Homo sapiens: one gene and its partners. The protein of the gene in region 2 interacts with the protein of the main gene of each other region in a pairwise test. Each region holds a gene or a part of one and is shown on either strand. Other genes may lie near its edges.

Region 1 (3,500 bases), on a different chromosome or scaffold from region 2:
CCTGGGCAACAAAGTGAGACCCCCATCTCTATAAAAATAATAAAAATAAATAATAATAATTAGCCGGGTGTGGTGGCATGCACCACCTGTGGTCTCAGCTACTTGGGAGGCTGAGGCAGGAGGACTGCTTGAGCCCAGGAGTTTGAGACTACAGTGAGCTATGATTGCTCTATTGCACTTCAGCCTGTGTGACAGAGACAGACCCCATCTTTAATTAAAAAAAAAAAAATTAAAAACTGCAAAAAGAGTGAAGGGCACATATTTCTTAAAGAATGCTTCAGAAGAACAAAATGTGCCCCAAAACATGAAATAGCTCCTGATAATATCAGTTTTTAGTTGACCACTATGAAGGACATCTTCTAAACAATAACAAAACAAACCTGGCAGTCCAATAACTACAGGAAAGATCAAGACTTCCCCATTTTGGAACATCTTTGCTTCAGGTTTTTACTTTTTGTAGTAATACAGGAACAATATGCCATAGGGACAAGAGTTGAACAGGTGTCATCCCTTACCCTATTTTACCTATTGGTAATTAAGCCTAACAGTTTATTGTCTGTACATCTTTTCTTTTGTATGTTCCCATACAAAACAATCTTTGGAATTTAGCTTCACTTTATGACACTATGGTGATTATTGTTCCTAACAGAGAGTCTAACCTAAGAATATAGCCCAATACGTGAAAAAGCTAACTGAACAGTAAACAATGACATTAATCTCATTGTAAAAAAACATGAGATTCTTAGCAAATGGCAGCAAAAGAACTGTGGATACATTAACAAGGCATTAAAAAAAAAATTTAAAGTTTCTGGCCGGGTGTGGTGGCTCACACCTGTAATCCCAGCACTTTGGGAGGCCAAGGCGGGTGGAACACGAGGTCAGGAGATCGAGACCATCCTGGCCAACGTGGTGAAACCCCGTCTCTACTAAAATACAAAAAAAAATTAGCTGGGTGCGGTGGCACACGCCTGTAGTCCCAGCTACTCGGGAGGCTGAGGAAGGGGAATCGCTTGAACCCGGGAGGCGGAGGCTGCAGAAAGCCGAGATGGCGCCACTGCACTCCAGCCTGGCGACAGAGCAAGACTCCGTCTCAAAAAAAAAAAAAAAAAAATCTAAGTTTCCATGCTTTGACCTAAAAAAAAGTCACATAGGTTTCTTTTTCTTTAATTCCCATTTCTTTTTTTAAAAACTGGTTAATGTGTAGATTTTTATTCAAATTCATTTGGACTGCACATGAATATTAAAAAGTTATAACATGAAGACTGTTCATTAGACTATCATAGGCAAAGCAAGTGATTCACAGAATAAGTGCAATTTATCGACCCTGATCATTACCTTTACTACCGACCACTATTTAACATCACTTTTTTAATGTACTGTTTACTTGTTTACTGTCTTTGTTTATTGTCCTGTCTTCTCCCACTAGAATATAAGTTACGTAAGGGCAAAAACTTTCTCTTATTTTCCACTGTATGGCCAGGGTCTAGCACTTGGTAGAGGATCAGCATAAATTTGCTGAATGAGATGGGTGAATACCTTCCGCCTTTCGCCTCCCCCACTTCCCTCTCTCCATACACATGTTAACCAATCTTTAAGGCCAGGGTCAAATTCTATTATCTCTATGAAGATTACCTCCCTGAGCCCTCTTTCTCTTTTGTACCTGAATTTGGCACTTGCCAGCTGTCTGGTAATTATCTTTGCATATGTATGTATCTCCCTTAAAATTCTTATAATCCTGTTCTCCATAACATGGGCCAGTGTCCCCAACTTTTGGAATCCATCTCAGCACATGTAAACAGCATACTGCTAACAAATGTTTTGCTTGATTCCTATCAGTAGTTAATCCAGAAATTCAGTTAATAATTTCAGTTTATAATGTATCCCTCCCTTTCAAATAACTCAAAATAGGCCATGATATTACAGCGAATCCCTCTTTTTATTTCTGACAATTTTAAATTTTACATTCTCATATAAGTAATGCTCATAATTTACCCTATCAATCACTATCCCTCAAGATTATATGTTTTTTTTTTTTTGATACACTGTCTTGCTCTGTTGCCCAAGCTGGAGCGCAGCAGTGCCATCATAGCTCACTGCAGCCTTGACCTCCCAGGCTCAAGAGATCCTCCCACTTCAGCCTCCAAAGTAGCCGGCACCACAGCTGCGTACTACTACCATACCTAGCTAATTTTTTGATTTTCTGTGGAAACAAGGTCTTTGTTGCCAGGGCTGTTCTCAACACCTGAGCTCAAGTGATCCTCCTGCCTTAGCCTCTTAAAGTGCTGGGATTATAGGAATGAGCCACCACGCCTGGCCTACATTTTTTAATGTAATAAAAAAATCTTGTGACTTTGTGGCAATACCTATAATGATGTTTCTAACCCCAGTCAAGAAGGGCGTGAAGTTTCATTCCTCTCTCTTGTTGCTGAGGTATCAGAGGGCATTTTTCCACTTATTCCTCTTTCCTTTCATGGCAAGATGTATTCTGTTCCCTTCCTTACTGATCATACTCCTGGCAAGCTTTTATTATTTCTTTGTACCTGTCCAAGGTAATCTGTCTTACATCCTTCTTTTGAGCCACTGTTTCCTCCAGTTATTTATTTGATTAAAATTCTAACTCCCTGTCTCAATCCATTTGTGTAGAAGAACCAGCTCTTCTTAAAGCCTGAGCCTGCTTCTTTAAATTCGGCCAACCTTTATGAACCTCTCTTCACACAGCCAACCCTTGATCATCAAGGATAATGAAATGCATACAAATAACAGATTGTCTACAACACAAGAAAATCAGAAAAAAAAAATTGACATCTGGCTTTGGAATTTATCATATGTAGCTTTGGGCAAGACTTATTTTCCTAATTATGTTTTTGTTTAAGCCAACATTCGGATTTTCTTTTATGATGGTGAATATCTCCGTTTTAAATGATCAGTAAATTTCTTTTAAAGCCAATCAAGCACCAACTATGGTTTTTCCTGTGAAATCTTTTTAACTAGTTTCTTTCATCTGTTGAAATCTGTCATAAAATCTGTTTTATTTCCTCTAAGTTATCTCCTTATTTTCTTGGGATTCTGATCCAAATCAGTTCACCCTATATTAATTTACTTCTTCAAATTAAAGTACCTTTTGCTTGAGAACTTAATGCATTTTAAAAACACTGAATGTCCAGTGAAATTTTTAGTTCAGGTAACACGAAGTAGAAAATTATTTTTGTCTAGGAAAACTTGGGAGTTCTAGGATAAATTATTACACTGGTAATTCTAGCAAATTATATTTAGTAGGATTTTTAGGATTAGCTGAAAATTGAAAAAATTTAATACTGGACAGCTATATAAGTCTGCTTCATCAATATATTAATCCCATATGCTAAACACTGTATGAAATTAAATTCCCAGTCCAGGGATTTACAGAAAATAGCATCAAAACACACTAACACATAAATCCTGCCTCTTATTCTGATCCCTACCTAAACTCTGCAACCTTCTCACACCTACTCTTCCCCCCT
Region 2 (3,500 bases):
GCCTCAGTGAAGGCTGTGGGGCTGTCATCAGGGCAAGCAGGAAGCCATTTCGACATTGACAACAGGTACAATTACACTGCCATGCTGCTAAGTGACCTGTTTCTAGGCTTCCTAGATTCTGTAAGATTTAAATGATAAACATATAATGTTTAAAAATGCAGTCACAATCTCTACCTGGCCCCAAAAAGAGGCCCCCAGCCCCTCCATTCCACCTTAGAGTACTGTGCAGACACCCCCGGTTCCCAGAAAGGCCTGAGAGGAAGAAACCGGGCTGCCTCCCTGCATGAAGGAAAGCCAGGGAGAAGCAGCCCACATTCAACCAGGGACGCTCCGCTGTGAGGACCAAGTCAGGGAGCTAAGACCAAATGAACGAATTCGCTTCTTGTTTCCTTTTTTAAAATCAAAGAGTATGACAAGAACAGGCATTTTAGAACATAAATTACTAACAGATAAAATAATGCTCAATCTCACAAAAATCTTCTTTAAAAACCCAAAATGAATGCCCATTTTTAGTCTATCACTTGGCAGCGATGGAAAGCAAGCAGACTCGGTGCTGGCGGGAGAAGCAGAAACAGGCGCTTCCTCAGGCCACAGAGGGTGTGCAGTGGGCACTTTCTCTCCAGGAGGCTGATTTCTGAGGTGTGAAATGCACACACTTCCCCAGCCAGCAGGCCCTGAAGCCCAGCCCACCCAGAACTAACAGCACGGCCGCAGGAGCAAGGAAGACAAGGACAGCCTGGTTCTACCAAGGACAGACGCAGCAGTGGAACCATCTCCACGGGCTGCCTGCCAGCTCTGTGAACCCCAGTGCGCCAGAAACACGCTCATCTGAAGACACTGCCATCTGTCAAAAAACTGTCATCACATACTAATTTAACAGGAAAAGCACACTTTACTGCCGTCTGCTGGAAGACTGTGGTGATAAAGTCCCAAGCTTGTGTGGGTGCTCTGTGTGGCCAATGGGGAGGTGGCTAAGGAGGTGCTCTCCCCGCACCCTGGGACCCTCTCTAGTCACCCCCGAAATACAACCTGAGGCAGCTTCCCAACACCTCACTTCAATTTCAAGACAGCAGAGGAAAGACAGTTCTGCCCCTTCAAGTCTTGAAAATCACTCAGAACAAAGAAGACAAATGCCAAGTACAGATCCAAGTGACGCCTGGATCGGGGCTTGGCTCCCAAAATGCCTGGAACCCAACGCTACCCTGTGGGCAGCAGTGAGGGTACCCACAGCACCCGCAGCATGAGTGGGGCAGGTGCTGACCTCCCCCACTGCCCGCTCAACTCTGGGATCCAGACCCACTGCTTGAGAGGTATCCCAGGAAGGAGCACATCATGACAGGTGTCCACTGTCTGGCCTTGCCGGTCCTTCCCCACAGGTACCTGTGGCCACCCACCGGGTAAGAACAGCCAGGCACTCTTGAGGATGAATGGACACAGCTCTAAGTAGACACTGAAACCCGAAGACCCCAAACACTCTCAGGGCTCCTCCACTTGCAGGGTTCGTGGGGTCAGGGGTCAGGGGTCAGGGCATAAGTGAAGTCTGGGCCAGGTCTCTTGCGGCCATGTTATGGGAGGGTGGGAACGTTAGCAAAGGCTTAGAGCAAGGCTGTGAGAGAACATTGCTGTCCAGCCTGCAGCAGTGTGGGCGCTGTCTGGGCCTCTCTTCTAATCAGTGTGGAGGATGCATTTGCCCCATCAACATGCCAGACCTGAGGCCTTATTAATCTGCTCCAGCAACAACTGCACCTTGACATGCACAGCAGCTGCGGCCAGGACTGCCAGTGCCGTAAGCCTGTGGCCGTCTGGGGTCATTCTCCAGAATCCATGCAGCTTCTTCAAGGGCTGGACTAACGAGTTAGACTGGGATGCAAGATACCACTGTCTCTGCTCCCCTGAGGCTTCCATGGTGGCCCTAGTCTCCTCCACCCACCCCGGGCCCTGCAGGGTGTGATCTTGTTTTTGATTTACTATCTTGGGGGCAGTTTCAGGTTTCCATTTGGCCTTCCCACTGTGACGACTCTTACTCACAGGCCAAGGAACTCGTGTGGGCGTTACTCCACCTGCCAAGCGCCTCCGCTCCGGCTACACACTGAGGACTGGGGAGACGGCCACTGGGTGGCCTGGGACCCTGTGGCCCACTGAGAGCCACCAGACACAGACGGCTCAGGAATGAAGGCCTGGGACACAGGCCAGGCAAGCCACAGAGGCCTGCCAATGTGAGAGCTGAGGGTATGAATAACAGGAAAGGGTAGGGAAAGAGCCAGCAGAGAGACCACAGTGACAGGGACTACAGGGTGTCCCACTAACCTCTGTCTTCCAGATTTCCCCTGAGGAAGAGAGAACCATGGGCGCCACAGGAAAGCCATTCCCAACTTATGTGGAGAAGTAGAGCTGAGGGGGCCAGGGTGGACTGTGGGGTCCACGGAAATGCACTCCTTGGTCTCCCGCCACAGGAGTGAGAGTGACAGATGGCCCAGTGTGGTGTCTGCACCTACCCTCTGTCCCTGCCAGGGCACACCTCCCACAGAGCCGTCAGCCAGGGGCCGACCGGGCAGGGATGCTGAGGCAGGCCCGTTCCTGTGTGACACCGGAGGCCCTCAGAGCTGCACCGCAGTCTGGACCAGGCCTCTGAGGGGCCAGGACTGCACTACGTTCAGCTAGCATTTGCTGCCTCCTCTGGCTGCTCCCCCTTCCTTCTCGCACAGGCCTCCTCCCGGCCAGTCCCTCGCCTGTCTAACCCACCGTGGCATGCGGAAGCCGCCCACGAAAAGCCCCACGCTACAGGGACAGGAAGCTGCAGGGCCGCCCAAATGCCCTAGCTGAGCGAAGGAAATGCCAACCTCTATAAATGGCCACGACACCCAGGAAAGGCTCAGCAAGTGAAATGCAGGTGCTATGGAGGCAGAAGAGGCAAGGGTAGCACTTGGAGAAGTTTTCATTTTATTGAAAGTCCAAGTACGTAGTAGATGTCCCAGATCCCCATCTCCATCCCAGAAGTGAGGCTCCACTCCTTCCTCACTCCTGCTGGCCCTTCACGCAGAGAAACTGATGCCCAGCTTCCAGGTGCAGGGCCACAGGCGCCGCATGCACAGTCCTGTGGGTACCAACAGGGAAGGCACGGTGAGGCCTGCCTGCAACAGGGCTGCCTGGTGAGTTTGCGCTCTGCCACATGAGAAGCACAGCCCTGTACCCCAGCAGCCAGGCTTACATCCCTCCACCAAGGGACTGAAGGGGCCTTTTCCAGAGAAATTAAATGGTGCCCAGAGAAAAAACCTACAGAAGGTGACACCTGTGGCTGCCTGTGGTCCAAGAGACACCCATTCTTTAACAATTTACCCATTCACTCAGTACTTCCAGTCAGCCTTTAATGCTTCAATCTCTTTTTTTTTTTTTTTTTTTTGAGACGAAGTCTCGATCTTGTTGCTCAGGCTGGAGTGCAATGGCACTATCTCAGCTCACTGCAACCTCCGCTTCCTGGGTTCAAGAAATTCTCCTGCCTC
Region 3 (3,500 bases), on a different chromosome or scaffold from region 2:
CTTCTTTCTCACATTGGAGAACCTCCCCTGAGGAAGGGCTGGAATCAGGGGTGGCAGGTGTCTCTACAGGTACTTAGTGTCCTTGGAAGCCCAGCGTGACCTTTGCTTCTCTATTTTGTCATTGTCCTGAGGAGCTACTCCACAGTCACTTCTGCACATCCCCCTGCACGTCTTCCTTTGTATGTCTACCTCTCTAACCCAAGTCTTGTCCATAAAGCTTATCCTTCCAGCTTTGCTGCAGTCCTGACGAGTGTGTCCTCTGCATCTCTGGAAACCACTCCATGGCCATTCTCTAGGTCCACAGCGCCACCTAGTGGCCAATATGGAGCACGCCAGCCCCTGCCTTCCTAGCAGTCCGCCTGAGTCTGTAGGAGTCGAGTTCTTTCTGACTTCCTGCTGGCTTAGTGACCCCATTAACCTGAGCTTCTTTCTCCTTTACAGGCGGCTATGAGAGGTTTTCCTCCGAGTACCCAGAATTCTGTTCTAAAACCAAGGCCCTGGCAGCCATCCCACCCCCGGTTCCCCCCAGTGCCACAGAGCCCTTGGACCTGGGCTGCAGCTCCTGTGGGACCCCACTACACGACCAGGTAGACTCGGGGGGCAGGGCTTGGAAGTGGGGGGCAGGAACAGCGTAGGGGCCAGTGGATGCCTTCTTTTCAGAGTTCTGACGGTGTTTTTTGTCTTTGCTTTTGAGACAGTCTTGCTCTGTCACCCAGGAGTGCAGTGGTGTGATCATAGCTTACTGCAGCCTCGAACTCCTGGGCTCAAGGGATCCTCCCTGGTAGCTGGGACTACAGGTGGCACTACCATGCCTGGCTAATTTTAAAAGGTTTTTGGTAGAGATGGGGGGGGGGGGTCTTGCTATGTTGCCCAGGCTGGTCTTGAACTCCTGGCCTCAAGTGATCCTCCTGCTTTGGCCTCCCAAAGTGTTGGGATCACAGGCGTGAGCCACTGCATCCAATCCTGAGATTTTTTTAAGTCTTTGAATGTTATGCCTCAATTTGGGGAGAATGCGGTGAACCCGGAGTATTGGGGTGGGATGTTAGGTAGGACCTATTTACTTCTTGGAAATCTTCCCCTTCCCTCTCTAAATATCCTCCTAAGAAAAAAGTCTAAAGACATGACTCCCTGGCTTGGCCTCTAACGTCGTGTCCGGACAAGTGAGGAGGCCTCCAGAAGCCCTGGGGGACCTGCTCTCTGGGAAGCTGAGGTCATTCTCCTCTGAAGTAGCAGGCCATGAAATACATCTCAGTCCCCGACAGGCAGGCTGCTCCCACGTATCAGCCGAATGAACATAGATGGTCACCCACCCTCCCTCCAAGAAAACCTGCTTGAGCCACTGTGTTTCTTATAAGCCCACCCTCCAGCCCTTTCAGTTAGATGGACTCTGCTGCCCACATCTCATGTGCTAAATTTAAGCCACTGTTGCCTCATTTTGCCAAGATCCTCTCTCTTGTCTGTGTGGCCATGAGGGCATCAGCTTATTTATTTGTTTATTTTTAGAGACAGAGTCTCACTCTGTTACCCAGGCTTGAGTCCTGTGGCGCAATCATAGCTCACTGCAGCTTCAAAGTCCTGGGCTCAAATGATCCTCCCATTTCAGCCTCCCAAGCAACTGAGACTACAGGTGTGCACCATCATGCCAGCTTCATTGTTTGAGAGATGAGGTCTCACTGTGTTGCCCATGCTGGTCTTGGAACTCCTGGCTCACATGATCCTGCCACCTCAGCCTCCTAAAGTGCTGAGATTACAGGTGTGAGCCACTGCACACCTGTTTTTGATATGCCCAGTGAATACATATCAAAACAAATAAGTATCTAAACCACACAGCAAATGGCTTGATGATTAGCAGATATAAACTCAGTGTCACAGATGGTGCCATAAGGCCGGCATTGTCCTGCCGCTTATTTTGCCATGGGGGAGGTGCAGGAGAGTCCCACAAGACTTTACCTGCCCTGGCCTCTCTGCTCACAAGTAGAGGGCAAAGGCTGGAGAAGTCCCACTGGGCCTATCACCCCTCCAAGAGTTCCAGGAGGCTACAGGGGGAGGCTGGGAGGGCCAGGCCCAGCAGGCATTCTCCCTGGGTTTGGAAAGGAAAGCTCTTCTCAGACAAGCTTCCACTCCCTGTGCCAAGCACTTTACCCTCATGTCATTCAGGGGCCTTTGTTTCCCTTTCTGTGCAGGGGGGTCCTGTGGAGATCCTTCCCTTCCTCTACCTCGGCAGTGCCTACCATGCTGCCCGGAGAGACATGCTGGACGCCCTGGGCATCACGGCTCTGTTGAATGTCTCCTCGGACTGCCCAAACCACTTTGAAGGACACTATCAGTACAAGTGCATCCCAGTGGAAGATAACCACAAGGCCGACATCAGCTCCTGGTTCATGGAAGCCATAGAGTACATCGGTAGGCTGGCCCTGCTCTGGGGTTCCTGGGTTTGAGGGCGGGTGGGAAGGATAAGGAACCCCTGTAAGCCTGGGTTGAAGGTGGACATTGGAGGCACTGAATCCAAGGGTCCCCATTCCCCCTCTTCCTCATTGGGAAGGCTTATACATTGGATGTTGGGTTGGGAGGGAGGAGGGAAGATGGACCTACACACAGGCTTAGCTTGCAGAGCCAGTCCCCTTCCCCTTGCATGGCTTCAGTGCCTAGATGGTAAGAGTTTTTGGACGGGGAGGAAGACACAAGGAGCATTGAGTCATAGTTTTTATTTTATTTCTATTTATTTATTTATTTTGAGACAGAGCCTTGCTCTGTTGCCCAGGCTGGAGTGCAGTGGCGCCATCTCAGCTCACTGCAACCTCCGCTTCTGGGGTGCAAGTGATTCTCCTGCCTCAGCCTCTGGAGTAGCTGGGACTACAAGTGCACCACCACGCCCAGCTAATTTTTGTATTTTTGTAGAGACAGTTTCATCATATTGCCCAGGCTAGTCTTGAACTCCTGAGCTCAAGTTATCCACCCTCCTTGGCCTCCCAAAGCGCTGGGATTACAGGAGTGAGCCACCACCCTGGACCCCACTGTTTTGTTTCTGCAAAGGGAAATCCTTGAACAGATAATAGGATTTAACCAGCTTCAGCATAGTGATTCGGGAAAATAGACCTCAGAATTGGGGGCATTCTAGAGACCTGCCTACATGGGTTTTCTTCCTCTCCAGTCCTTGGTCTAGCACGGCTAGTCCTTCCTTCAGAGCCCCCCGACCCCAGGGGCTGGCCGGTGCCCCTGGTCGGGGCTGGGGTCTGCAGAAACGTGCACTAACCTATTGAACCCTGTCCCCAGATGCCGTGAAGGACTGCCGTGGGCGCGTGCTGGTGCACTGCCAGGCGGGCATCTCGCGGTCGGCCACCATCTGCCTGGCCTACCTGATGATGAAGAAACGGGTGAGGCTGGAGGAGGCCTTCGAGTTCGTTAAGCAGCGCCGCAGCATCATCTCGCCCAACTTCAGCTTCATGGGGCAGCTGCTGCAGTTCGAGTCCCAGGTGCTGGCCACGTCCTGTGCTGCGGAG
Region 4 (3,500 bases), on a different chromosome or scaffold from region 2:
CTCGGCCTCCCAAAGTGCTGGGATTGCAGGCGTGAGCCACCGTGCCCGGCCGGAAAATATTCTTCATGTATAGCAGTGTTGGGTACCGCAGGAGATTTTTTAAAAAGTAGCACTCAGTCCTTACCTTCAAGGAACTTAGTTTAGTTGTGGGAGATAAGCTATATCCATGAGAAGTTTGGCTGAGAGGAGGCGGAGTTGGGCTCCCTGCAGGTGGGGAGGAGGGTCAGTTCTCATTTCTGAGGGAGATGAGCTGACGTCTGCAGTTTGGAAAGGAACCAGAAGTTCCACATGGTGGTTTTGCAATAGAACATGCTCGTGTTTACCAAGCAATTCTGAGGGAAAGGCTAAAAAAAGTGTTAGTTTATCAACTTGATAGAACTAACAGGTTTCGATGAGCTTTGATTCAATATAATGCTGCGGCCAGGCATGGTGGCTCACGCCTGTAATCCCAGCACTTTGGGAGGCCGAGGCAGGCGGATCACTTGAGAGGAGTTCAAGACCAGCCTGACCAACGTGATAAAACTCCATCTCTACGAAAAATACACAAATTAGCCAGGCGTAGTGGCGCACGCCTGTAGTCCCAGCTACTCAGGAGGCTGAGGCAGGAGAATCACTTGAACCCAGGAGGCGGAGGTTGCAGTGAGCCAAGATCACGCCATTGCCTGGGTGACAGAGTGAGAGTCTTGTCTCAAAAAAATAAAAATAAATAGGTGGGGCGCGGTGGCTGACACCTGTAATCCCAGCACTTTGGGAAGCCAACGTGGGCGGATGACAAGGTCAGGAGATTGAGACCATCCTGGCTAACACAGTGAAACCTCGTCTCTACTAAAAATACAAAAAATTAGCCGGGCATGGTGGCATGCGCCTGTAGTCAGAAGATTGAGGCAGGAGAATCTCTTGAACCTGGGAGACGGAGGTTGCAGTGAGCCGAGATCATGCCACTGCACTCTAGCCTGGGCAACAAAGACTACATCTCAAAAATAAATAAAAAATAAATAAAATAAATAAATTTAATTCTGGAAGCTACACATGTTTTTCCCATTTTTTTAGGCAGCTTCGAACCAGTGCAATGACGATGCCAGTCAACGGGGCCCACAAGGATGCTGACCTGTGGTCCTCACATGACAAGATGCTGGCACAACCCCTCAAAGACAGTGATGTTGAGGTGAGATTTTTGGGGTCTTCACAGATTTTTTTATGTTGGAGGCCTTCATTTAATCTTTAGTTCTAATTACAAATTAATTAGGGACAGCCTTGAAATGAGTATTATCCTGCTGGATTTAGAGGTGGTGGCAGACAAAATGGCTACAAATCCTTTGAGGGTAAATTTAAAGATTGCTGGGTTTCTTCAAAGTGTGGAGCACTGTGCAGGGTGCTCTGGAGAAAAGCGAGAAGGGGAGAGATCACTGACAGTTGACCCTTTCCTGACAGTTCACAGGGAATATAGATCTATCTAGACATCTGAAAGCACCTTTATTTTATTTTATTTTACTTGTTTATTTATTTTTTTGAGACAGAGTTTCACTCTTGTTGCCCAGGCTGGAGTGCAATGGCGTGATCTTGGCTCACTGCAACCTCCACCTCCTGGGTTCAAGGGATTCTCCAGCCTCAGCCTCCTGACTAGCTGGGATTGCAGGCACCCACCACCATGCCCGGCTAATTTTTTTTTTTTTTTTTTTTTGAGACAGAGTCTTGCTCTGTCGCCCAGGCTGGAGTGCAGTGGCGTGATCTCAGCTCACTGCAAGTTCCACCTCCTGGGTTCATGCCATTCTCCTGCCTCAGCCTCCTGAGTAGCTGGGACTACAGGTGCCTGCCACCACACCCGGCTAATTTTTTGTATTTTTTAGTAGAGGTGGGGTTTCACCATGTTAGCCAGGATGGTCTCGATCTCCTGACCTCGTGATCCGCCCACCTCAGCCTCCCAAAGTGCTGGGATTACAGGCGTGAGCCACCGCACCCGGCCTTTTTTTTTTTTTTTTTTTTTTTTTTTTTTTTTTTTTGAGATATAGTCTTGCTCTGTTGCTCAGGCTGGAGTGCAGTGACGCGATCTCAGCTCACTGCAAGCTCCATCTCCCGGGTTCACGCCATTCTCCTGCCTTAGCCTCCCGAGTAGCTGGGACTACAGGTGCCAGCCACCACGCCCTGGCTAATTTTTTGTATTATTTTTTTTTTTTTAGTAGAGACGGGATTTCACTGTGTTAGCCAGGATGATCTTGATCTCCTGACCTCGTGATCCACCTGTCTCGGCCTCCCAAAGTGCTGGGATTACAGGCGTGAGCCACCACGCCCGGCCTAAAGCATCTTTTCTTTTAAGGAAGAAGAACAAGGAATAAGGTTCAGGGAGGGAGAAACTTGGTGAAATGTAGGAATAAAAATAACAGGATGGTGGTGTTAAAAATTAGGTGGGACACTTAAAGATAACTTTCTCTTCAATCATTTTGTTTTTCTTTTTCTGAGATGAAGTCTCGCTCTTGTTTCCCAGGCTGGAGTGCGATGGCGCGATCTCGGCTCACTGAATCCTCCACCTCCCAGGTTCAAGCGATTCTCCTGCCTCGGCCCCCCGAGTAGCTGAGATTATAGGCGCCTGCCACCACACCCATCTAAGTTTTGTTTTTTTGTTTGTTTGTTTTTGAGACAGAGTTTTGTTCTTGTCGCCCAGGCTGGAGTGCAATGGCGTGATCTCGGCTCACTGCAACCTCCGCCTCCCGGGTTCAAGTGATTCTCCTGCCTCAGCCTCCCGAGTAGCTGGGATTACAGGCATGTGCCACCATGCCCGGCTAATTTTGTATTTTTTAGTAGAGACGAGGGTTTCTCCATGTTAGTCAGGCTGGTCTCGAACCCCCGACCTCAGGTGATCTGCCCATCTCGGCCTCCCAAAGTGCTGGGATTACAGGCGTGAGCCACCACGCCCAGCCAAGTTTTGTATTTTTAGTAGAGATGGAGTTTCACCATATTGGCCAGGCTGGTCTAGAACTCCTGACCTCAGGTGATCCACCAGCCTCGGCCTCCCAAAGTGCTGGGATTACAGTCGTGAGCCACCGCACCTGGCTATCATTTTGTTTTTGTTAATTCATTGATTAGTGCTTTCTCAGATACTAAAACCTTTGAGGAGGATTCATTCTATTCCATAATGTGAAAGAGTGTCTTTTCTCTTTAGGAGGTTGTAATTTGGATCAGAGCAAAATTTTAAACTAAAATTTCCAAATATCAAGCATCTGTTTTCTTCTCATAAGGTTTACAACATCATTAAGAAGGAGAGTAACCGGCAGAGGGTTGGATTGGAGCTGATTGCCTCGGAGAATTTCGCCAGCCGAGCAGTTTTGGAGGCCCTAGGCTCTTGCTTAAATAACAAATACTCTGAGGGGTACCCGGGCCAGAGGTATGTGAATATCTTCAAAGGCCTGGTTCTGACACAGTCATAGGGAGTACTCAGTCAGCCTAGGACCTAAACAATTTGGAAATTTCAGAAAACAATAAGCTTCCCAGCTGTAGGATTTCTG
Region 5 (3,500 bases), on a different chromosome or scaffold from region 2:
TCCCCCTGCTCTGGGCTCTGCTGCCTCCCCTCTCTCGGGGCCATCTTGCAGCTTGGCTGCTCTTCACTTGCCTCCAGAGAGCTTTCCCCCTCTCAGTGTCATGAACCTGACCAGTTTTTCTCCTCTCCCCAACAGCAATCTCTGGCCTCACAGCTGGGGGTGGCCCTGCCAAACCCAGCACCAGCTGTTAGGAAGAAATCCCAAGAGAAAAAGACAAGCCTCAAGAGAACCTCAAAGACAAACCCCAAGAAACACGGCTCCGAGGAGGCCAAGAGGGGGGCTGCAGATGTTTCCAGTCCAGAGGCCTGGCCACCCAAGAAGTCCAGCTTTCTGCCCCTGTGTGTCAGCGGCCATCGGCCTTCCATCTCCAGCAGCTATGGTGAGCAGGCTCTGCAGTTGCCATAGCAACCCTGCAGCTGCCTCCAGCTCTGGAACCTTCCCTGGGGATGGAATTGACCATTTTAAAGGTTGCGTTGTGCCTGGTCTGACTTTTGCACTCTGCCCTGAGTGGTGTGAGGATGACTGTGGGAAGACAGAAAGAATGCCAGCAGGTCACCTCCACACACAACACCTCAGCGAGCTCTAGGCAACCCCAATAAGCCCTTGATGGAAATTATGTTCCGGGATTTCCCAACCGTCAACATTTCTTGGCCGCCTCAACTTCTGCACCCTGGCAGGGAGGGGAGTAGTGTGTGCAAGAAGGAGCTGGAGCAGGGGAGGCAGGAGACCTGGGTTCTAGCATATTGTCTATGTCATTCCCCATCTTTGTGCCTCAATTTCTTCACCTGTAAAGTGAGACATTTCCCTGCTGCATATCTATAACACGATCAGTCCTCACAGCCATCAGATGAAGTGCAACTATTATCCCCACAGCCATCACATGGAGTACAACTATTATCCCCACCTTACAGATGAAGGACCTGAGGCTTTGGGAGGTAAAACAATGTGTTCAAGGCCACATGGCCCATGGATGATGGGGCCAGAGCTAGAGGCGGAAAGGATCAGACAAGTCATTTCTTCCTGGGCATCAGGGAGAACAGGTCATCCTGTTAGGTCATCCTGGCCAGGAGAATTTACATCTTAGAAAGGAGGGAGTGACGCTTAACACCAAAGAGGGGAATTTCAGGCCCATGGGGAGATATTTTCATGCAGGGGGATTCTGGCTATGATTCATTAATTCATGCCATGGGACCAGGCCTCTACTCTTCAACTTGTGGATCAAGTCAAAATGGTGGAGGGAGGAGAGGGCAGCAAAGCCCAGGAAAGCCAGTTCTATGGAAGCACAAAGGGATAAGGGAACTCGGTCTGGGCCAGTAAATCAGAGGCACAGCCCTGCCCAGCAGCTGTCTTCCAGCCCCATAAGTCCTTAATGTGATCCAGCCACGGAGCCCACTTTTAGTTTGTGCTAGCTTCTGTGCATAGTTAACAGCCCCAGACAGACAAAACACACCCTCGTTCTCCTTCTGCTTCTCAGGCTTGGAAGAACCTAAAGTCCAGGAGGCCCCATCTACAGAGGCTGGGGCTCCAGGTCCCTCCGTGCTTCCCACCCCATCAGAGAGCCAGGAACCTGGAGAGGAGCTTCCGCTGGACAGAGCCTCGGAATACAGTCAGTACTCCTCTCTTTTTCTCAGACACCCCTTGCAAAACTTCTGTTCTGACTCCCCCACTTGCAAAGAGACACTGAGCCAGAGAGAGGCAGTGACCTGTCCAGACCTCCCTCTGAGTACAGCAGGCTGGGGAGGCAGCTTGGGGCCCAGAGCCCAGGCCCAAGCCAGGCTGCCTGTCTGAACCTCGATAAATGGCGATAGTGTTGGTGCTTACCCTGATGAGGCAGACAGGAGGCAAAGGGAGGAAAGTGCTGGCCCACACCAAGGGCTCGGCCAATGGGGTGATCTTATGGACCTTGGTTTGAGTCTGGGCTGTGACCCCTTTGAGCTGTGTGGACTTGGGCAAGTTACTTCATCTCTGGTCTCAGTTTCTTCATCTGTGAAATGGGGGCAGCAAGTACCTGCTTTCTAGAATTGTCGGCAGCATTTAGGGCAGCCCCTGTTAGTGGCTAATATGTGTTAGGTGCCATTTGTTGCTATTATTGTCATTGTTGGGTGGCCCAGCTTGAGAGCAGAGCTCAGAAGTAAAAAGGATAGGGACAGGGGTAGGGGCCTTGGGAGGGAAGCTCAGCTAATGGCAGCTGCCATCGCTGTAATTATTATTTTACCATTGGCAGAGCCAGGCCTAGAAACATATATATATATATATATATATATATATATATATATATATATATATATATATATATATATATATATATATATAATATCACCGTCAGGTCTGAAAAGACCTGGAAAGATCTCTGCCCCCTATCCCCTGCCATTCTGCCTTGTTTGCTTTTCATAGAAAATATGCCTTGAAGGGAAATTCTGCCTGGACAGGGAGAAGGTGCAGGATGAGGGCACCTGTAGGGAATGGGCCTTTCCAGATGGCCCTGAGGGGCCTCCTCCTGGGTGTCTATTTAGAGGCCGTCATTGGTAAAGTGAATATGTATCCCATGAAACCAGCTCTGCCCTCAGGCCACCTCTGGCAGCTCTTTAGCCCCCTTGGAGAATCACCCAGGGAGCCACCGGGGCATTAGGAAATGAAGACTGACCGCAGAAGAGATTTCGTAGCACCAAAGTTAACCATGCGTGTTGATCTTTTTCAGAAGAATTCATTCAGAAGATCATTTCCATGCTCCAAGATGCAGAAGAACAGCAAGGAGAGGAGGTGAGGAAGACGCTCCCCATGTAACCCTGACCTCACTGTGGGCTCCCCAACCCTGCCTGGTGTAACAACTTCCCTGTCTCTGCTGCTCTTCTGTGTCCTGCTCCAGTCCCTCCTTTTTTTTTTTTTTTGGAGACGGAGTCTTGCTCTGTCGCCCAGGCTAAAGCACAGTGGCTCGATCATGGCCCACTACAACCTCCACCTCCTGGGCTCCAGCGATTCTCCTGCCTCAGCCTCCTGAGTAGCTGGGACTACAGGCATGCGCCACCACACCCGGCTAATTTTTGTATTTTCAGTAGAGACAGGGTTTTACCATATTGGCCAGGCTGGTCTCGAACTCCTGACCCCTGGTGATCCACCTGCCTCAGCCTCCCAAAGTACTTGGATTATAGGTGTAAGCCACTGCACCCGGACCCAGTCCCTCCTTCTTGAAGCTTCCCCAGCCCCCTCCAGACCACACATATTTCCCCAGCACTGAGCATCAACCACTCTTCTCTGGGCAACGCCTGCTAGCCCACCGTGGCTCTCTTTCCCCACCTCACCTGAGATCTCCTCAAGGTCAGGGGCCCTGACTCAGTTTCTCTCATCTCCCCCACAGCAACCTCAAGTCCAGCAGGAAGAGGTGGGTGTAGAAAACCCGGCCCCACACTGCAGAAGGAAATCTCAAGAAAAAAGGTCGAGCTTCAGGAGAGCGTTTTACCATAAGAAACACACCTCCAAGGAACCCAGAAGAGCGGGGGCAG
Region 6 (3,500 bases), on a different chromosome or scaffold from region 2:
CCATCCTGTTTAAGGCAGACAAAACTTTCAAAGAAAAATATATTTAAAAAACCATTATCTCAGGGTAATAAATCATCATAGTGTAAACACAGATAATAAATATATAAGATAAAAAGGATTAAGCAATTATGCTGTGAATTGGCTGAAGAGAAAATGTAAAACATTTAGCTGGAGTAAATTTGGGAGAATACTACCTCTTTCCTTTAAATAATTCTTGGAGAAGGTTGATATGAGGAGTTTCTTTAGTCAAGAAGAGTGTGCTTGGTGAGCTGGGTCCATCAAGAAGCATATTTCAGACGTAAGAAAGATCTAGTGAAAAGACGGTAATTGGACATTAGAGGTAGACCCATTGATTTTAAATTAGTAAAAGACTAGTAAAAGGATAAACTAGGAAATAAGAGTAAGAAAAATAATTTTCCCCTGTGTATCCTAAGGAAAACATCTTTTGTGGTCCTGGAAGCCACAAGGCTGGGGTTGACCTCAGTGAGAGGGGGAAAATATACCACCCCAAAACTTAGTGGCAAGATTGAATGGTTCTTTTAAGGTAGAGAGAGTCTGGTACAATAGGAGAAGACCCACATCTGTGATGGCAGGAAAGAAAGGATGCGGACAAGGAGGCATTTTGAAGTTGAAAAATAGAATAATTTGCCATTGACTGGCTATTTGCTATAATGAAAATGTAAGGTGACTGACGAAGTGTAGTTAGAATGTTAGGAATGCAGACGCTGGCTTTGAGAGTAGGTAGGTAGTGGATGCAGAGCTCTAACTTCTTGACAATGACCACGAATTGTTACCCAGATGTCCCATTTAGGATCTAATAGACCAGGCATTTGCAATCAACCCAAAGTAGTTTAAAGGACATTTTTACTGGCGTGTTGGTCTTTTTGCATTACTAGGACAGGACCAATGCAAAATGGTAGAATGAGCATTGGAGTTTTGGTGCCACACCATCTTTATTTCTGTAGGCTTCACTGAGTTTCTGATGCTGCATTTTTATTATCTTCAAGCATCTAGTATCTTGTATTGTCTTCTGGTAGTAAAAGACACACACTGCGGTACTCACATTTTTACTGGGCTAAAACATTTATTTCTTCTTGAAGTTCGTTCTTAGCTAGGTATTGGAACAAAATATTATAATCATATAATTAAATGTATTCCCAATATGCTGTGATAGGTTTAAATATTTCTTTCTTGCCTCAGAAAAGATAATGAAATAGTTGGAGATGTAGAAATGTGGAAATTTCCATTGTTAGGGGAGGACAGCTTTAGGTGACTTCTCTGAGAAGAAAATGTATTAATAAAAAATTAACAAAGCAATTGTTGGGTCTTTGATTTACTCTTTCTCCAACTGATAGTTTTTTCCCCTGAATTGGCCATTTATTTTTATTTTTGTGTGTTCAAATATACAGAAGTGAATCTAGAGACTGAATATGTCCTTTAAAATATTTTTTCCAAAAAAGGTTATTTAGGAGCAGGTTATAGTTCATGTTATTAGAGCTCTAAATAAAAAAGCAGAGCTCAACCTCATATATTAATTGTGGCTGAAGATTATGATTACCAGTAGTGGTGGAATACTAGATCCTAAAGTGTTTGACCAATTACCAATTATTTGAACAATTACCATTGCTCTTGTTTCCATTTCCTATAATAATCCACTTGAGTGAACTGTAGGTCATCATGAAATAAAAATAAGATGACCATTGCCACAAGTGTAAACTAAGGAGAAATGACCAGAGCACCAAAGAAAGCAGTCTGGAAGTTTAATATAGTGAACTGTAATGTACAAAGTCTAAAAAAAAATTACACGATTGGGCTGCTTGATGCCAACAATATCAAATTTTTAATCAGAAATACAGTCAAGTAAGTAAATTTCTAGTCTACCTGGTGAAAATGAATCCATATATAGAATTGTCTGTAAATTACCTCTATTGGTTAGTCATTGATAAGCTATTCCTAAGAAATGTCTTCACTTCTTAGTCTGGCCTTTAACCTTTCCATGACCTAGCCTAGGTGTCTTTTTCTATCTACATCTTTTACCTCTCTTCTTCAGCTCTCCTGAACAATCACCAAAGTACATACTTCATACCTTCCCATCTCTGAGCCCTTGATTCCTCTGGTCAAATGCTTCCTTCTTTCCCTAGCTCTTCTCCATTTTGACCTAGGCTACTTGATAATTTAAGCTCAGTTCAAGTAGCATCTCCTCTTAAAGATGTTCCCTTTGGAAAGGAGTTAGTTCTTGTTCATGTTTGTGATTTTCTTTATTATTTTATAGCTTTTAGTGGGGGAAAAAATTCTCCATTATAATTCCTTTTCATTCTGTTGTAATAATTTACTTTTATCTTTTTTCCTCACTGGCTGAAAACTACATTAAATCAAGTTCTGGTCCCTTGTTAATTTCTGTATCCCTAGCACTTAATGCAGTGCCTTACATATAAAGGGGGTTCAATAAGGTGAGTGAAAAAAATGAAATATTCAAAAGATTGCATATCTTTTCAACTGTGAAGTCCTTGCTCAGATATTGACACCTTCATGAAGCTGTTTTGTTCTCTCAGTGAAAGCAATCTCTCTCCCAACATTATTCTGATAGCTTTTTTTCTGTACCTATTTTATAATTATCATAGGCAGTACTATAGCTATTTAGATACATGTCTTATCTCCCCTAAGAGATTGTAAAGTTTTTACAGGTAAAGCCCATGTTAAATTCAGTTTTATTAAACTTTTTGTCCCCTACAGTGGTTAGCATATTATCAGGGACATAGTCAATATAAATATTGGGTTGAATGATAAACTCCCCAAGTGCTTCCTGAAGTGGCATGTTTAAGTAAAAGTATCTTACGTTAAAAAAATCACTCAATAATTTCAAAGCATGTCAAAAGTAAACATGTTATGTAAAATAAGCTGTTGAATCAAAATCCTCTTAAATAAAATTCAGAAAAAAGAGACTTGAATGTTCATGTAAAAGTCTAAGAATTTTCTAGGGGTAGTATTAGAGTTACGGGAGAGGTGAATACACATACAACACAGTGATTCGTCTGAAAGACCTATGATAAAGTTTGGAGCTAAGATAGTGACTGTGGGAATAGACAGAGAGCCTGATGAGGTAGAATTAGCTGAACTTGTTCATTGACAATATATGGGAAAAATTAAGCATGAATGAAGTTTATTACCTCATTGGATGAATGTTGGCATCATTAATTGAAGAATGAATAACAGGTCTTGGGTGGGGATGGGAAGAGATTAGACATCTGATGTTGAGTTTGAGATGCCTTGGTGGCACTATATGATGATATCTAGAAAGAAGTTGGAAGTATGAATCCTGGACATAGGAGAGAGAAGGGAGACTGGAGATATTCGTCATATAAATTAAAGTGATGGGAATTTACTCAGGGAGAGAAGGTAAAAGTAGGAAGACAGGATTCAAGCCAGGAAACAGAAAAGTATAAAAGCACCTATGAAAAAAGAGAGCCAATGAGAAACCTAGGTGTCTTTTTCTATCTAAG
Region 7 (3,500 bases), on a different chromosome or scaffold from region 2:
TCACAGAACCTAGAGAAAACGTGTTTCTTGTCCTCCAGGCATTTTACAGTGTATTATAATTTATATTAATGAAATATTTACTTTCTTTTTCTAAAAAAAAATTATTTCATTTTTTGAGATGAGGTCTTGCTATGTATGTTGCCTGGGCTGGTCTTGAACTCCTGGGCTCAAGTGATCGTCCTGCTTTGGCCTCCCTAAGTGCGTGCTAGGATTACAGGTGTGAGCCACCACAACTAGCCTTTATTGGCTTTCTTTCATGTCATGAGAAAATGATGATCTGGACACCTGAAAAGACCAACTGCACATGCAGGAGTACAAATAACATGAATATAAAATCATCACCTTTTCACATGTGGAAAGACTGTACCCAGAACTGCCCACTTCAACTTTCAGAGCTTCTGCTCAACCATTTGGCTTCTTGGCACAGAACATATGCATGAAATTCTTTCACCTCCATGTAAGTGATTTATCTGGAACTATGCCCTGATAAATCACCCTTGTCACTCTTCCCCTTTACTTCCCCTGTCCCCTCATATAAAGCTCCAGGTTCCTGTTTTTGAAACTCTGTAATAGTTGAACATAGGGCACAAAATCCTGCTAATTTTCTCTCCCAATTTAACAACAATGTGACTTTAACCCCTTGGCAATTGATGTTGGTCAGGATTTCCTGGCAGTAAATACTCAAGGACAGAGAGAGGAATCAGCACCCCACCATCATGCCAAACCATTTCATTTTTTTTTTTTTTTTTTTTTGAGATGGAGTTTTGCTCCTGTTGCCCAGGCTGGAGTGCAATGGCGCAATCTAGGCTCACTGCAACCTCCACCTCCTGGGTTCAAGTGATTCTCCTCAGCCTCCAGAGTAGCTGGGATTACAGGCACCCACCACCACGCCCGGCAATTTTTTTTAAATTTTTTTATTTTTTAGTATAGACGGGGTTTCACCATGTTGGCCAGGCTGGTCTTGAACTCCTGGCCTCAGGTGATCCACCCACCTCTGCCTCACAAAGTGATGGGATTACAGGCATGAGCCACCATGCCCGGCCCCATTCCAGCTTTTTCAATCCTTTCTGCATTCTGAAGAAGAGGTGAACTAGCAGAGAATTCTGGGTGTTGACATGCAAATGAACACCAGTTGTTTTATTTTTTCCCTAGTCATATCTGATTATACTGTTTTCACTGCATTTCCGAAGGCTGCATAGATTCTTTCAGCCTCCAGGTAGATCTGTCAAACTGCAAGAGTGATCCCTGGGTGGGCCTGGTCTGCCTTTCTTTGCAACCAATTCACCAATTCTTAGATAGCAGAGAGTTCACTTTCATATTTCACAGGGGACCTCCTTACCCTCAAACCTAGTGAGAAGATCGTGGCCAGCCTGCTTTATGGAGAGAGAACCTCTTAAAACCCTGGTCAAATTTGGTCTGCATTTTATCTTGAATCATTAATTTAACATGACATTTGGTACAATGTGGTACAATGTTCCATACAAAATGTACTGCACTTCCATGGCTGTTTTTTTGTATTTTTTACAAAGCAAAGTGGAGTCCTTACACTTTCCATCAGCTTGGACAGTATCATCCAAAGATTGCCATTATAGGAGCCGTATCATTCTCAAATTTTGTCTTAATGATTTTACACTTCTAGTTGGGGGCTAACAGTGTATTTATCTTCAGACCGTACATCAAAGGGCTGGGTAAGCGTCCCTCCTTAACAGGAAAGAAAGCTTAATTACAAATGGGACATGATGGGGTGAATTCAGGTTTTGTGGGGCATAAAATATACACAGTAGTGGAGTCTCTCTAAGGAAAATATTACAAATTATGAGAATAAAATTGCTTCGGCCCTTCCCCAAGCACTGGAAGGACTTCTGCACAAGGGAAGGGCCCCATGAAGCTTCATTAGCTTCATGGTGAATCTGTCACTGGTCATTGTGTGCTTGTGCTTTTCATATACTGGACAGACCAGAACGGAATGAAGAAAGCTGCACTTGAACCCAGTGTTTTTCCAGGAAAGCAAAATGATTTCTGTAAGGAGAAATCAATTTTTTGAGGGATACATCAAATATAATTAATTTTGATATATTTCAATTTTCAATATTTTGACATTTTGATTTTCAATTTTGACATATTTTGATTTTCAAAAATATATTTTGATTTTCAGGATGGGATTAAAAGTACTGTTTTATATAGATGAGTAAATTCAATTATAGATCTATGGCATGCTTCCTATGTAGAATACAAAGACAATGGGGGAAATGGGATTAATGATGAAAATAGAGTAATTAATTTTTTTTTTACCTTTTTGAATGGAGAAATAGAACAGTAGTGTTCCTGAGAAATCCAATAACATCAGCATTTTAACATGAGTTATGAAAGGTATTATACATGAATGCCCTAAGTTTACACTCCTTTTGAATAACAAAATAGCAAGCTACGGGAGATAAACATGAAAATCACTCAAAAAGCACAGGGTATTCTGGGTGACTTTTCTAATTTGGCAGATTGAATGAGTGTAGTCAACCCCTCTACCCTCTCTCAAACAATCACTTGAGGTAACCCTGTCAGAGTGAAAACTGGCTTGGAAAAATGTGTGCCTCATCGAGTGTGGCTTTCCTGATGTTCTTAGTTTTACCAGGGAAAGACACTGAATTCTTAGGGCTCATGTTCTTCATTTTGTTTCCTTCTTGCTTTTTACACATCTGACTTTCATCACCTTTGACACACCTGGTTCTCCTCGGTTAGCTACAATCCAAAACTCATTGGTTTGGTTTCCTCAGCCTCTCGTTGGTTTCTGCCCCTGTTGTTCCCGTTTCCCTCTTGTTGAGAACTATGAGATTTATAGGACATAAGGGGTCTTCAGAAGTAATCTGTCCCATCATTCTCTGACTAATGGATAAACGGAAGCCAGAGACATTCCAAAGTCAAAGTGCCATTTATAGCAAACCAGGAACTAGAACCTAAGCCCCGATTCTGGGTTGAGAACTTTTCCCTTTCCATTGCTTTCTATAGGACTTCCCCACTTCTTTTTTTCCTTTTAAAATGATTGTTCTAGGATGAACTGGAGATTTTAAACTAACGCTCTTAACATGCTGGGGTCTTGGGGCAGGGCCTTTTGAACCACTGTTTCCTAGAGGTGCTGGTGGAGTGCTGTGTGTGATAGAAGTGAAGTTTGAAAGCTGTCAAAGATATTCTGCTTTCCTGCAGGGTTTAGAGATTTACGACAAACAAATGAAAACTTAATATGAAGAATTATTCACATGCTAATGAACTAGCACATAACCACAGCTCTTAAAAAAATCAATTGCCAGCCAAAGAGTTACTCAGCAGGCAAACAAGGGTATTGGCCAACTGAGTCCAGCCATTGGAAAAAAAAAATCCAAGTGCTTTTCTTTTTAACTCTATAAAATATTATTTTTAACTTATTCTCTGAAAGAACACACTGGTTTAGATCTTTTACATCTTTAGCTATTCCTGACAGTCCTGGCAATAGAAGAATTTATTTTATT

What was found.
Region 1: the proteins of MAPK9 (region 2) and DUSP16 interact in binary tests that used the Homo sapiens proteins (3 or more experiments, as listed by UniProt).
Region 3: the proteins of MAPK9 (region 2) and DUSP4 interact in binary tests that used the Homo sapiens proteins (3 or more experiments, as listed by UniProt).
Region 4: the proteins of MAPK9 (region 2) and SHMT1 interact in binary tests that used the Homo sapiens proteins (3 or more experiments, as listed by UniProt).
Region 5: the proteins of MAPK9 (region 2) and BNIP5 interact in binary tests that used the Homo sapiens proteins (3 or more experiments, as listed by UniProt).
Region 6: the proteins of MAPK9 (region 2) and MLIP interact in binary tests that used the Homo sapiens proteins (3 or more experiments, as listed by UniProt).
Region 7: the proteins of MAPK9 (region 2) and PPARG interact in binary tests that used the Homo sapiens proteins (3 or more experiments, as listed by UniProt).

Annotation. Positions count from the first base shown.
Region 1 is NC_000012.12:12,556,364-12,559,863, forward strand, and holds part of DUSP16 (dual specificity protein phosphatase 16), read right to left. Parts: intron 1-3,500. UniProt on the Homo sapiens protein: Dual specificity protein phosphatase involved in the inactivation of MAP kinases. Dephosphorylates MAPK10 bound to ARRB2.
Region 2 is NC_000005.10:180,250,584-180,254,083, forward strand, and holds part of MAPK9 (mitogen-activated protein kinase 9), read right to left. Parts: intron 1-3,500. UniProt on the Homo sapiens protein: Serine/threonine-protein kinase involved in various processes such as cell proliferation, differentiation, migration, transformation and programmed cell death.
Region 3 is NC_000008.11:29,337,185-29,340,684, reverse strand, and holds part of DUSP4 (dual specificity protein phosphatase 4), read left to right. Parts: intron 1-441; coding exon 442-587; intron 588-2,183; coding exon 2,184-2,403; intron 2,404-3,273; coding exon 3,274-3,500. UniProt on the Homo sapiens protein: Regulates mitogenic signal transduction by dephosphorylating both Thr and Tyr residues on MAP kinases ERK1 and ERK2.
Region 4 is NC_000017.11:18,353,551-18,357,050, reverse strand, and holds part of SHMT1 (serine hydroxymethyltransferase, cytosolic), read left to right. Parts: intron 1-1,050; 5' UTR 1,051-1,069; coding exon 1,070-1,165; intron 1,166-3,233; coding exon 3,234-3,379; intron 3,380-3,500. UniProt on the Homo sapiens protein: Interconversion of serine and glycine.
Region 5 is NC_000006.12:36,323,389-36,326,888, reverse strand, and holds part of BNIP5 (protein BNIP5), read left to right. Parts: intron 1-135; coding exon 136-379; intron 380-1,474; coding exon 1,475-1,606; intron 1,607-2,698; coding exon 2,699-2,760; intron 2,761-3,355; coding exon 3,356-3,500.
Region 6 is NC_000006.12:54,124,943-54,128,442, forward strand, and holds part of MLIP (muscular LMNA-interacting protein), read left to right. Parts: intron 1-3,500. UniProt on the Homo sapiens protein: Required for myoblast differentiation into myotubes, possibly acting as a transcriptional regulator of the myogenic program. Required for cardiac adaptation to stress through integrated regulation of the AKT/mTOR pathways and FOXO1.
Region 7 is NC_000003.12:12,411,070-12,414,569, reverse strand, and holds part of PPARG (peroxisome proliferator-activated receptor gamma), read right to left. Parts: intron 1-3,500. UniProt on the Homo sapiens protein: Nuclear receptor that binds peroxisome proliferators such as hypolipidemic drugs and fatty acids.